Linked DNA regions of Homo sapiens. The protein of the gene in region 3 purifies or fractionates together with the protein of the main gene of each other region. This does not show direct contact. Each region holds a gene or a part of one and is shown on either strand. Other genes may lie near its edges. The genes, in order: LDLRAP1, TIGAR and KLK13.

Region 1 (3,646 bases), on a different chromosome or scaffold from region 3:
TCCCTCCCCCATGACCATTGGCATCTTGGAGTGATCCTTGTGCAAGGTTTTTGCTTCTGGGGCAGCAGGGCTGCTGGGGGGCATGTGGCTGTCTTGGTTTGAGTTTCTGGCCCCTTTTGAGCCATGAGCAGCCTGGTTCCTGGGAACAAGGAATGTGAAAAACTGGGCAAGGTAGCATCCACTCAGGATAATAAGGCAGACCCGAAGGCCAGAGGCAGTCAGGAGGGGTGGGCATCCCGCCTGGGCAGGCCTGAGCAGTCCCTCCACCTAATGCTGGTCCTCGGATCCCTGCAGCCACCCCAGGAAGCAGGGCCCACCCCACTCCCAGTCCCTGCCCAGCCTGGGCTTGCAGCTACCTGCACACATCCACCTCTTGGGTTGTATTCAGTTTAACTTACAGCTTGGGACTTCAGGGCAAAAAGGTAGGAATGTATGCAAGTGAACAATCAGATTTATGCAACTACAGTCTAAGCTTGTGTCTCCAGATTTCCAGCAGGCTTAAATAATGGCGTTTTCATATCCCTGCCACATTGGGTGTCCAGCCCTTGCTTGGGTGGATAGTGATCTGACTTGGGCTGGTAATTAGCCCATATTTTTAGTTCATGGGCAATTCTCAATGGTAACTGGGTCTATTAAACTTGATTCAGATATGACAGCTTAAATTGTAAACAGCTGCGAAGAGTTTCATACTTAATTACCATATTTAAGTTTTGCCATAAAGTGCCTGTACTTCCATCAAAAATGTAAATGTTGGAGACATTCAAATGAGGTTTTATACTTTCGTGAAGTGTAATTGGCACGGATCAGTCAGTTTGTTTAGGAATTTTAAATATTTTTTTAAAAGGAGTTTTAAAGGCAGTGGCCACAGGTCCATTTCTCAATTAAATTGAGTTGTCTGGGGGAGGGCAGGGAGCGGGGCTGAGGCTGGTGAGGCCTGAACTTGTAGACTTGAAAGAGGCTGGTGCTTTCTTCTCTCAGCCAGGGCTTCAGAAGGAAGCTAGATGTTTCCGGCTATAGCTACGAACTCTGGGACTTCCACTCCCAGAAGCTGAGCTGATTAACCCTGGACTGGAATGGCTGAGAGAGGAAGGTGTTGAGATGAATATGGGCTGGGGATAGGTCCTGGGTGGAATGAGGCCTGCACCTCAGGTGAATGTAATTCACCCAGCATTGTTGCCACCTCTGGGAGGCTTTGGCCTGCTCCCGAGGGCAGGGGTGTTCAGATTGATTCTTGCTTTTAGGGTGCACAAAGCTGGGGGAAACACAGGCAGGGGAGCCAGTGACACTTTCACATGCATAGTGCCAGAGGGAGGTGGGTGGGGCTCGAGGAGTCTGGGACTGGTGACAGGAGAGGTGGTGACATCTGAGTTGGGTTTGGAGGGGTGAGGGAGAGTTCCCCTGGGGTGAAGGGCCGAGGTGTGGCCCTTCCTTACAGGTGGGTTATAGCACTGACCGGTTTTGGTCCCCGGGCCTTCATTGACATCTTGCTCCTATCAGGAAATTGACAAGCCTTCTACTCTCTTTGTGGGATCCAGTTATGGTCCCAACCGGAACCTAACTTTCACCTCTCTGGCTGTGGCTCATTTGGGGCAATGGCTGGGCCCTTCCAATTCTGGCTTTTCTGTTCTCCAATTCCAAGGGCTAAGTCCACAGGTAATTAGGGAGGGTTTCTTGGAGGAAGTAAGCCTCACAGTTCATTGAATTCAGGGAAGCCCAAAGGGGAAGGAAAAGACCTGGAGAAGAACAGCCTTTGCAGGCAGGGGCCCTAGAGTGAGAGTGAGAACTTTGGTGGGGCCAGAGATAGTAAAGATGGGGACTCTACTGCCTCTGCGAGGCTATGGCCTTATGACACCCCAGGCTGCTTTGGAGACCTGGGAAGGGCCAGGACCCTGCTCTGCCCAGCAGGCATTCCAGAGCCTGGGATGGAGCTGCAGAAGCTGCAGGGAGGGAGCCAGGGGGCCTGGCCTGGAGGCCCCAGCCCTCCAGTGCAGACTTGCTCTGCCCTGGCTGACACTGCACCCCTCCCCATCCCCACTTCCTGTTTTCAGGCACAGGCTGTTACCCTCACCGTAGCCCAGGCCTTCAAAGTCGCCTTTGAGTTTTGGCAGGTGTCCAAGGAAGGTGAGACTTTGCATCTACATTGTGGGTGTGGTGGGAGGTGGGGAGACACATAAAGGCCCTGGGGTCAGACCTGGACCGACTTCCTGCCTCATCACCCACCTGGCTTGTGACTGTGAGCAGGTCCCTTCACCGCTCAGAGTCTCGGTTTTCCCATCTGAAAAATGGGAACAGCCGTCTCCCTCCCCAAAGGTGCTTGTGAGGATTAACTGACATCCGAAAGGTTTCTTTCCTCCCGGCTGGAAACCTGAAACTGCCCCTTGAGGTTGGCCACCGCTAATCACCCCTGCCCGGTGATTGCTGGGGACAGAGTGCTGGGGTCTGAGGCTCCAACATGTTGTGCCTTGGTCCTGCAGAGAAAGAGAAGAGGGACAAAGCCAGCCAAGAGGGAGGGGACGTCCTGGGGGCCCGCCAAGACTGCACCCCCTCCTTGAAGAGCTGTGAGTCCTGACGGGGAAGGGGGATTGGCCATGCGGTGTTGGGGTTGCGCTTCACCCAGGGGGGTCCCACTCCTGCCTGGGCTGGGAGAGCCTCTTGGTTTTTCACTTGTGTTTTGTTAAATAAATAATACACGTTCATTACAGATCAATTAGAAAATGTAGATAAGGGGAAGAAATAACTCATTTTAGTACATTTTCTTCTAGATATGTCCCTATGCAAATATATAAATATGCGTCTATCTTTCTATATACTTAACATAGTATTGTGTGGTTGCTTAAGAAAACTTAACTATTGTGAATACAAAAGTTTCAGTCTAAGCCATTAGTCAGGTTCTCACTCTGTGGGCAGCTGCGCATCTGCTGTGGGGAGGTGCCAGGGCCGGGCTCTGCTGGGAGGCCTGGGCAAGGCCACATCAGAGGGGAGGGTCAGGGCCAGGACAGCCCAGGGAGGGGGCCAGGAAGGAAGAGGCTGATCTCCCACTGACAACCTGACCGGATCCCTCACAGTGGTCGCCACTGGGAACCTGCTGGACTTAGAGGAGACAGCTAAGGCCCCGCTGTCCACGGTCAGCGCCAACACCACCAACATGGACGAGGTGCCGCGGCCACAAGCCTTGAGTGGCAGCAGTGTTGTCTGGGTGAGTGGTTGTGTGGCCAGCAGATCGGTGATCCTCAGCCTGACCTCTGGGTGAGCCTGGGGCTGCTCCAGGGACCAGGCCCTGGGACCCGTGACTTGTGGGCCTCTGGGAGGACCAGACCCAGCCCGGTAGTGCCCAGGCGCAGGATAGGGGATGAACAATGTCCCTTTTGAACCTGAGGCTGCATCCCCAACAGGCTTGGCTCCCAGCACAGCTGTCTCCTCACAATGCTTGGCCTCTTGGCCTGAGCGTCCACGGCTCTGCCCACCACAAGACCAGCCAAAGGCGCCCTTGTTCTTGGTGTGGCAGAGCTCGCTCCTACCACCCCTCCCCCTCAGCCGCCTGAATGAGGACCCAGAGACTTGGGCAGTCACCAGCTTGGTCCCTGACTCCCTCAGGGACTCAGGGCAAGCCCCCTGACCTCTCTGTCTCAGCTTTTTCATCTCAGTA
Region 2 (3,646 bases), on a different chromosome or scaffold from region 3:
GTTTTGTTTTTGAGGGCGCAATCTCGGCTCACTGCAGCCTCCGCCTCCTGGGTTCAAGCGATTCTTCTGCCTCAGCCTCCCGAGTCGCTGGGACTACAGGCACACACCACCACGCCCAGCTAATTTTTGTATTTTTGGTAGAGACGGGGTTTCACCATATTGGCCAGGCTGGTCTCAAACTCCTGACCTCATGATCCGCCTGCTTCGGCCTCCCAAAGTGCTGGGATTACAGGCATGAGCCACCGCGCCCAGCCGAGGATGTTACTTATATTGAAATAACAGATATTTTATTCTTGGTCTCAGCAAGATTTTGAGGCTGAGACAGGAAGTGAATCCAATACATGGTAACTATTTTCTAGATTAAAAATGACAGGTTCCCCATGTTTGCCCTGAATGCTTCTGCTTTATCCATCTGAATGGTAGAGGCTAATATCCTCTTTCATGCCCATTTTATAAGATTCTGAATGAATTTTGGAGTGTAGGAAATCTTTTTTTTTGAGATGAGGTCTTGCTTTTGTCGCCCAGGCTGGAGTGCAATGGCATGATCTTGGCTCACTGCAACCTCCACCTCCTGGGTTCAAGTCATTCTCCTGCCTCAGCCTCCCGAATAGCTGGGATTACAGGTGCCTGCCACCACGCCTGGCTAATTTTTGTATTTTTAGTAGACACAGGATTCTACCATGTTGGCCAGGATGGTCTCGGACTCCTGACCTCAGGTGATCTGCCCTCCTTGGCCTCCCAAAGTGCTGGGATTACAGGCATGAGCCACTGCATGTGGCCTAGGTAATCTTTTATTAATATTAACAACAATGATAATGGCAAATCAGTGCTGTTGGTTTTTTACCAAGGTATAAATAGTTCCATGTATTTTTTTTTTTTTTTGGAGACAGAGTCTTGCTCTGTTGCCCAGGCTGAAGTGCAGTGGCATGATCTTGGCTCACTGCAACCTCCACCTCCCAGGTTCAAGCGATTCTTCTGCCTCAGCCTCCCGAGTAGCTGGGACTACAGGCACTCACCACCATGCCTGGCTGATTTTTGTATTTTTATCAGAGACGGAGTTTCACCTTGTTGGCCAGGCTGGTCCCGAACTCCTGACCTCGTGATCTGCCCACCTCGGCCTCCCAAAGTGCTGGGATTACAGGCGTGAGCCACCGTGCCTGGCCAGTTCTGTGTAATTTTATTTCTTTATCATACGTTTATTTTTTAAGCTAATACATCTACATATTTAGAAATCAAAACAATTCTCCGTAGTCTTCCTATTCTTCCCCCAACCAATAGGTGGCCACATTTATTAGTTTCATGTTTATCCTTCCATTGTTTCTTTGTGCAGATCCAGATGTTTATTTCCCTCCTTTCTAAAAGGGTAGCTTTCTTTTTATATTACTCTATACCCTGCTTTTTCTACTTAATCATATATCTTGGTGAGCATTCCATATCTTTACATATAATCTCTCTCTTTAAAGGACACATTTACATAGGATTCCATTAGGTAGATATGTCACTGTTTATTTGTTAATATAAATAATGGTTATTCTGGCCATAGTTAAGGAATGAGTTATGGACATTTGGGTTGTTTATAATCTGTTGCTATTAGAAATAATACTGTAGCTAATGATCTTTTTTTTTTTTTTTTTTTTTTTTTTGTGAGACAGGGTCTTGCTCTCTCACCCATACTGGAGTGCAGTGGTGTGATTGCAGCTCACTGCAACCTCTGCCTCCCGGGTTTAAACAATTCTTGTGCCTCAGTCTCCCGAGTAGCTGGGATTACAGACGCCCGCCACCACGCATGGCTAAATTTTGTATTTTTAGTAGAGATGGGGTTTCATCATCTTGGCCATGCTGGGCTTGAACTCCTGACATCGTGATCTACCCACCTCGGACTCCCAATGTGCTGGAATTACGGGCATGAGCCACCACGTCTGGCCACAAATAATCTTTTAAATATGAGTGAATTCAGTTATTCCCAGTAATTGGGTTATTGGATAAAAGGGTAAACAGATTTGTCATTTTGATAGGTATTTCCAGATGACCCTCCCTAGGTAAAAGCACATTCACTGAAGTTCTGTCATTTCCCAGCATTTTCTCCAGGCCCTGGGCATGTTGAGGGTATGCAATCCCTGCTTGTGCCTTTAAGGAACTGGAGCCAGGATAGACACAGAGCTAAAAAGTCAATTAGCACACAGATGAAAACTTATGTTGGTAGTGCCAGGGGACCATGGGAGTATAGAGTGTGGGTATTAAATAGAGTAGGTAGATGGGGAATGGTACTGGGGAGGGAGACTACCTAAAAGAACCAGTCTTGTGTTGGGTCTTAAAGAACATTCATATTGGCCAAATCCAGCAATCTGTATCTTGGCAGAGGTTGGCATACAGCTGTTTTTGTAAACAAGCGGCAAGATTCCAGGATGAGGCCTGAGTTTGTGATTCTGACTTCCAGGTCTGGTAGATTTTTTTTTCTAGATCTGAGTAAATCAGTCCTATGTGACATTTTAATTATTATAAACTAGTGCTTCACTTAAAAACAATGGAGCGATCATTTTCCATCGAAATCAAGGAAATGCAAATTAAAATTAAAGTGAGATGAATTGTTCAGGTACCAGATTGGTACAAATTGAAGAAACCTTCCATCACTGAATCTTGTTGAGGGTGGTACACCACACTACAGGGTGGTGTAACCTGCTATGACACTGGCATTACCTAATAAAGCTGGTATTTGCATACCTTATGGCCCAGCAATTCTAGTGGTAGGTTGGGTCAGCAAACATTTAATTAGTGCTCAAAGAAATTTCAGCTGAATTCTCTTTGATTCTACTTTTCATGTATTTGAAAGTTGCATTATTGTTAACCTATCCTGCTGTCTGTCCAGTCTTGCCCATGCACTTCCCGCCCTTTTCCCCCTCCAGCCTCAGTAACCCCAGTTATTTTCTGACAAAGTTTCCAGTTCTTTTACCCTTCCGGTTGGTTCAGATTGCTTTGATTTGTTTTGGTATTTTAGTTTTTAAAAGTGTAGTACTCAAACCTCAGTTCAGTGTGCAGTTAGTTGGTCTGCGAGATAGCTGTCAGTACTACAAAAAATAACTGCTGAAGACCTAGGAACTAAGAGAAGGCAGGGGGTTCTGAAGGTTTGTGCACGTCTCTCCCATTCCATTCAGATTCTCTTTCACTTGCTCATTCAGTCCAGCAATGAATAGACTGACTCTCACGTTTTTGTTCCTGCTGCCAGTAAGAGTAGTTTTGATCAATATATTTCTTTTAACAAAATTATTTGGCTGAAATGTTATTTGCATTATATTTTTTAGTAGGATTTTCCACCTGCAATTCACTTAAGATTGGTTCCTGATCTACACGTTTTAGTTTGGAGTAGTTTGAAATTCTTAGCTCTTCATTAAAGAAGACAATTGCAAATATTAGTTTAGAATAAATTGTTTTTACAGGTTGGATTATGAAGTGTGTTACAAGTTTCACATGATATTTTTAGAGTATCACCACACTTGATTGCTCATTTTTTTCCTCCTCTCAAAAACAGTATAATTTGGCTAATAAGGTTGTCCTTCTCTTTCTATTTTAGTGGAGAAACAAGATTTAACAAGGAGAAAATAATCCAAGGTTGGTATAATCCGATTGTTATTTTAGCTCTCACCCTTGT
Region 3 (4,388 bases):
CCCCTAGGATTAACTCAGGGCTCCACCCAGTCATAGTTCCTGGAGACACCTACTCATTCTCAAAACACCACCCCTTCCTCCTTCCTCTCCCCCACCCCCAATCCACGTCTTCAAAGCTTTCCGGCTCCTGCTTTTTCCTCTCCACCTAGGTCCCCGTGGACTCCCTCACCCCCTCTGGCCCTGCTCCTAAAAGGCCATTTCTGGAAAATGTTGCTTTCTCAGGTCGCATCTCTGCCCCCATCCAAGTCCGAGGGAGCTGATTTTCTATCCACCCAGCTGATGATTTCCTTCTTGTGTCCGGTGGTTGGCGGGAGCAGGGAGGCAGGATGATGGGATAATTGTGGGTGTCCTTGTGTCTTTCAAAAGAAAAAGGGTTGAGATGAGACTGGGAATTGGAACCTGGATGTGTTGAGAGCTAAACCTGAGATGAGGTTGGAGATGGGACTGGGGTTGAGGAACAGGCTGGAGTACTTGGTATGGTTAGGGATGGATAGGGAGGTGGGAATCTGATAGAACACGGCCATCTGGGGGCTGACTGCCTATTAAGAATTATGCATGGGGTTGGAGAAGAGGTTAGAAAACTGGGTGCAGAATGGGTTGAAGTTAGGGATGGGCATGGAACTCAGCGGGGTAGGGGGAAGGAAATGGGCTTTCCCCTTACCCTTTTTTGGGTCCTGAGGCCTGAAAGTTCACAGTGGGTTCAACTCTGCCTTGGGCGGGGTCAGACCTAGGTCCCAGCACGTCCTGGAAGCTCCGCCCCAAGCAGAGGGCCAAGCCCAGGTCGGGGGTGCCTGGAGACATCCCGCTGAGCCACTGGGGGTGGAGAGGGGGAGGCCAGGGACCAGGAAATGCTGAGTGAGCTGGGGGAGGGAGTTCAGGGGTTAAAAGCCATGGTTCGGGGCTGAAGTTCTAGACAGCTGGCGGCTGACGCTCCTCGTGGGCCCCTCACTCAGGTAGGGTCTGCCTGGGGCGGGGGCGGGGAGCGGAGGAGGGCAGGGAGGGGAGAGAAGAGGGGATAGGAAGGATGGGGAAAGCAGAAGGGCAGCTGAGTCAGGGAGAGGGAGAGTGAAGCTAGAGTCTCAGATCTAGAGAGAAACCTGCAGAGACGGAGAGAGGCGAAGGGCGCGGACAGATAAGAACTTGGGCTAATACCAAGCGTGTGGACAGACCCAGAGGGGTAGAATGGAAGGCAGACTCTGGAGGAAAAGGGCGAGAGTGCACCGACCACCCAGCTCGCCAGAGGGCAGGGGAGGAGGGACGGCTTCCTGGGGTGAGGGGCTGCACGCCGGAGCCCCAGGAGGTTGCACACTGTTCCTCCCACCTCGCCACTGCACCCCCACCAAGGATGGAATTGGAGGCGGGGGGCAGATTCCAGGGTCAGGGCTGTCAAGAGTGAATGAGGCGAGGAGACATTCAGGAGCAGAGAGGTTTCAGACGCGGAGGTTCCGGGCACGCCCTCAACACCCCCTTCACCTTCTCCTCAGGCCCCGCCCGCCCTGCCCTCCCCTCCCGATCCCGGAGCCATGTGGCCCCTGGCCCTAGTGATCGCCTCCCTGACCTTGGCCTTGTCAGGAGGTAAGAATGCGCGGGGGTGGAGGCGCGGCGGCCATTCGGGACAATGGTAGGAGGGGTCAGGCCGGAGGGGGAGGGGGCGTGGGAGCCGCGAGCTCCGCCCCCCGCCCACTCGGGGCCGGGTCCAGTGGGGACAGCTCAGAGCTCTTCCTGCTTGTCCCTGGGTGACCTGGTTTCCCGGCTGAGGTTGGCCCTCCGACCCCAGACCCTTCACCTCCCAAAATACCCTCGCAGCAGCCCCTCCCGCGTTCAAGGCTTCCTGTCCTCTCTGGAAAGCTGAAAGACATGGGTTCGCGTCCTGACGCTGCCGCTTTGAGCCAGTAGCCTAGCAGCTGCTTTGTGCCTAAATTGTTTTCATCTGGAAAATGGGCTTAATCTATAAGTGCTTACCAGAGAAGGTCACTGTGAATATTGAAACGAGGTAATGCGTCGAGCCTTCAGTATGTCGCAGGTAGAAGGGACTTGAAAGTTAGCCACTTAGCCGTTATTACTTTATTAGTAGTATTCCTTTTTTTTTTTTTTTTTTTTTTTGAGATGGAACCTTGCTCTGTCTCCCAGGCTGGAAGGCAGTGGCACGATCTTGGCTTACTGAAACCTCCGCCTCCCGGGTTGAAGCGATTCTCCTGCCTCAGCCTCCCGAGTAGCTGGGATTACAGGCGCCCGCCACCACGCCCAACTAATTTTTGTATTTTCAGCAGAGACGGGGTTTCGCCATGTTGGTTAGGCTGGTCTCGAACTTCTAACTTCAAGTAGCCCGCGTCAGCCTCCCAAAGTGCCAGGATTACAGGCATGAGCCACCGAGCCCGGCCTCTAGTATTCTGTCTTCATACTCAGCCCCTTCCAGAACCTTCTAGATTGTTATTTTAATCCTTGGGTTGACCCCAAACCTATGTGACCTCACCCCAAATTGGTAGTCCTTAAGATCCTTATGGATCTTTCCCATCTTTCCCTGCCGTTGTAGGCAGGTTCTCTGGAAACCCCGTTCATGAATCATTTATTCATTCAACAAACAGCTATTAAACACCGGCCACTGTGCTGGGTGCTGTACAAGCAGAGACACAGTCCCTGCTCTCAGCACCTGGAGTCTAGCGGGGACAGACGCAGATGTTATTCAAACAATTATCCAAATAATTAGTTAATAATTATCTTGACATGAGGTGAAGACTTCAAGGAGCCAAGCCAGGGGCCTAGAGATGTAATGGCGGCTTCCCGACCAGAGGCCTTCCCAAAGGGCTTGACCCTTGAGCCAAGACCTGAAAAAGGAGGGATCTGTGGGTGCCTGGCACCTGGCACCATCCTTGGCCTGAAGGTGGGGTGGCTTTTCTCCTCTGGCGACACTCCCTGGATTCATGCCCGTGCCACTCCTGAGTGCCACACCCTAGGCTAGGAGACCCACACGCTACGCCTTGTGGAGTCCTCAACAACCTGGCGAGGTAGGTGCATTGTAATTACTCCAATTTCATGGCAGAGAAACCTAGGACTCAAAGACAGAAGGCTCCTGCTCCAATGACACCGGCGATGCCTGAGTCAGAATCCTAATCAAGGTTGTTTTCCCTGTCCATATCCTGGACTTGAGGCTCTGAAAACCATTTTTATAACTTTTGACCTAATCATTTGCTTAAAGTTAGCTTTTTTTCTTCTTTTTTCACTCAAACAAAAGCATGTTCAACTTTATATTACTGTCCTGAATAGAGAATAGAATTCTTTGTCATAAATAGAAGGTAAGGAAGGAAATAAATCCTGCACAATGAAAAGAAAATAATATGTTTATTGGGTTGGACCACCTGAAATTGCTGATACTTGACCCTTTTTGACCTTCCTAAAACAACTTTTGCAGATGGTTCAGTGTAATAAATGTTAGGTGGCCTGATGAGGCTTCTGTGTCCTCCTGGCTTTGAAAAGTGAGCTCAGTGAGGATTAGGGAGGTGTTAAAACCATATTAGCACCATCCTGAGACTTTATCCTTGACAAAATCAGGTTTAAAAGAGAACTGGATGCTGGTTCAGCGTCTGAGTGTGCGATTTAACGTTACTTAAATCTCATCTCTCTACCATCTAAAATGATCCTGTGCTCACCGACAACTTCTGTCCCTAACTGCAAACCACTGAGCTAATCCAACTGCTTGCCCTGTAGTTGGGGAAACTAGCTAGGGAGGCAGAGGGACCTCCTGTTGTAGCTAATAATTAATAATAACATTTCCCACTGACTGAGTGCTCTCCATGCCACCTGCTGTGCTGCACGGTTTGAAATGCAGGATCATCTTGAATTCTTCAACTGCGCAATGAGAGATGAACTATTACTTTTTCTACTTGACAGCTGGGGAAACTGAGGCTGGTGATTTGCATAAGGTCACACAGTCACAAAATGGCATGCATGTTCAGGATTGGATTCTCCCTGTCCCACGGACCCCTGCTGTGCTTTCAATGCCAGACACAGTGCCTGGCACACACAGCATTTATTTATTGAGCCCCCATTGTGTGCCAGGCGCTGTGTTAGGTCCTGGGAATATGGTACTGAATAAAGCAGTTAAGGTGCCTGTTGTCAATGGAGCTTACAGTCAAAGTGGAGAGATTTTTAAAAACGAATACATACAAATGTGAAGAGAAATGAATAGCAATCATTGTTCTGATGAAGACCAACTGGAAGAATGTAATGGGGGAGGAGTCGGGACCAGGAGAGTCAACATTAGACCAGGTGGTCAGGGAAGGCCTTTCTGAAGAGGAGACATTTGAGCTGACCTCTCAGAATTAAGAAGGACCCAGACATACAACCTCTAAATTCTGAGGGTCATCCAGTAGAATATTCCATATATGTAT

The links.
Region 1: the proteins of KLK13 (region 3) and LDLRAP1 purify together in Homo sapiens (affinity purification with mass spectrometry; one large-scale study listed by BioGRID and IntAct). This does not show direct contact.
Region 2: the proteins of KLK13 (region 3) and TIGAR purify together in Homo sapiens (affinity purification with mass spectrometry; one large-scale study listed by BioGRID and IntAct). This does not show direct contact.

The regions. Positions count from the first base shown.
Region 1 is NC_000001.11:25,560,596-25,564,241, forward strand, and holds part of LDLRAP1 (low density lipoprotein receptor adapter protein 1), read left to right. Parts: intron 1-2,048; coding exon 2,049-2,121; intron 2,122-2,474; coding exon 2,475-2,558; intron 2,559-3,065; coding exon 3,066-3,196; intron 3,197-3,646. UniProt on the Homo sapiens protein: Adapter protein (clathrin-associated sorting protein (CLASP)) required for efficient endocytosis of the LDL receptor (LDLR) in polarized cells such as hepatocytes and lymphocytes, but not in non-polarized cells (fibroblasts).
Region 2 is NC_000012.12:4,327,712-4,331,357, forward strand, and holds part of TIGAR (fructose-2,6-bisphosphatase TIGAR), read left to right. Parts: intron 1-3,568; coding exon 3,569-3,606; intron 3,607-3,646.
Region 3 is NC_000019.10:51,062,203-51,066,590, reverse strand, and holds the start of KLK13 (kallikrein-13 isoform 1 precursor), read left to right. Parts: upstream 1-1,498; 5' UTR 1,499-1,523; coding exon 1,524-1,575; intron 1,576-1,671; exon of another isoform or gene 1,672-1,993; intron 1,994-2,729; exon of another isoform or gene 2,730-3,005; intron 3,006-4,388.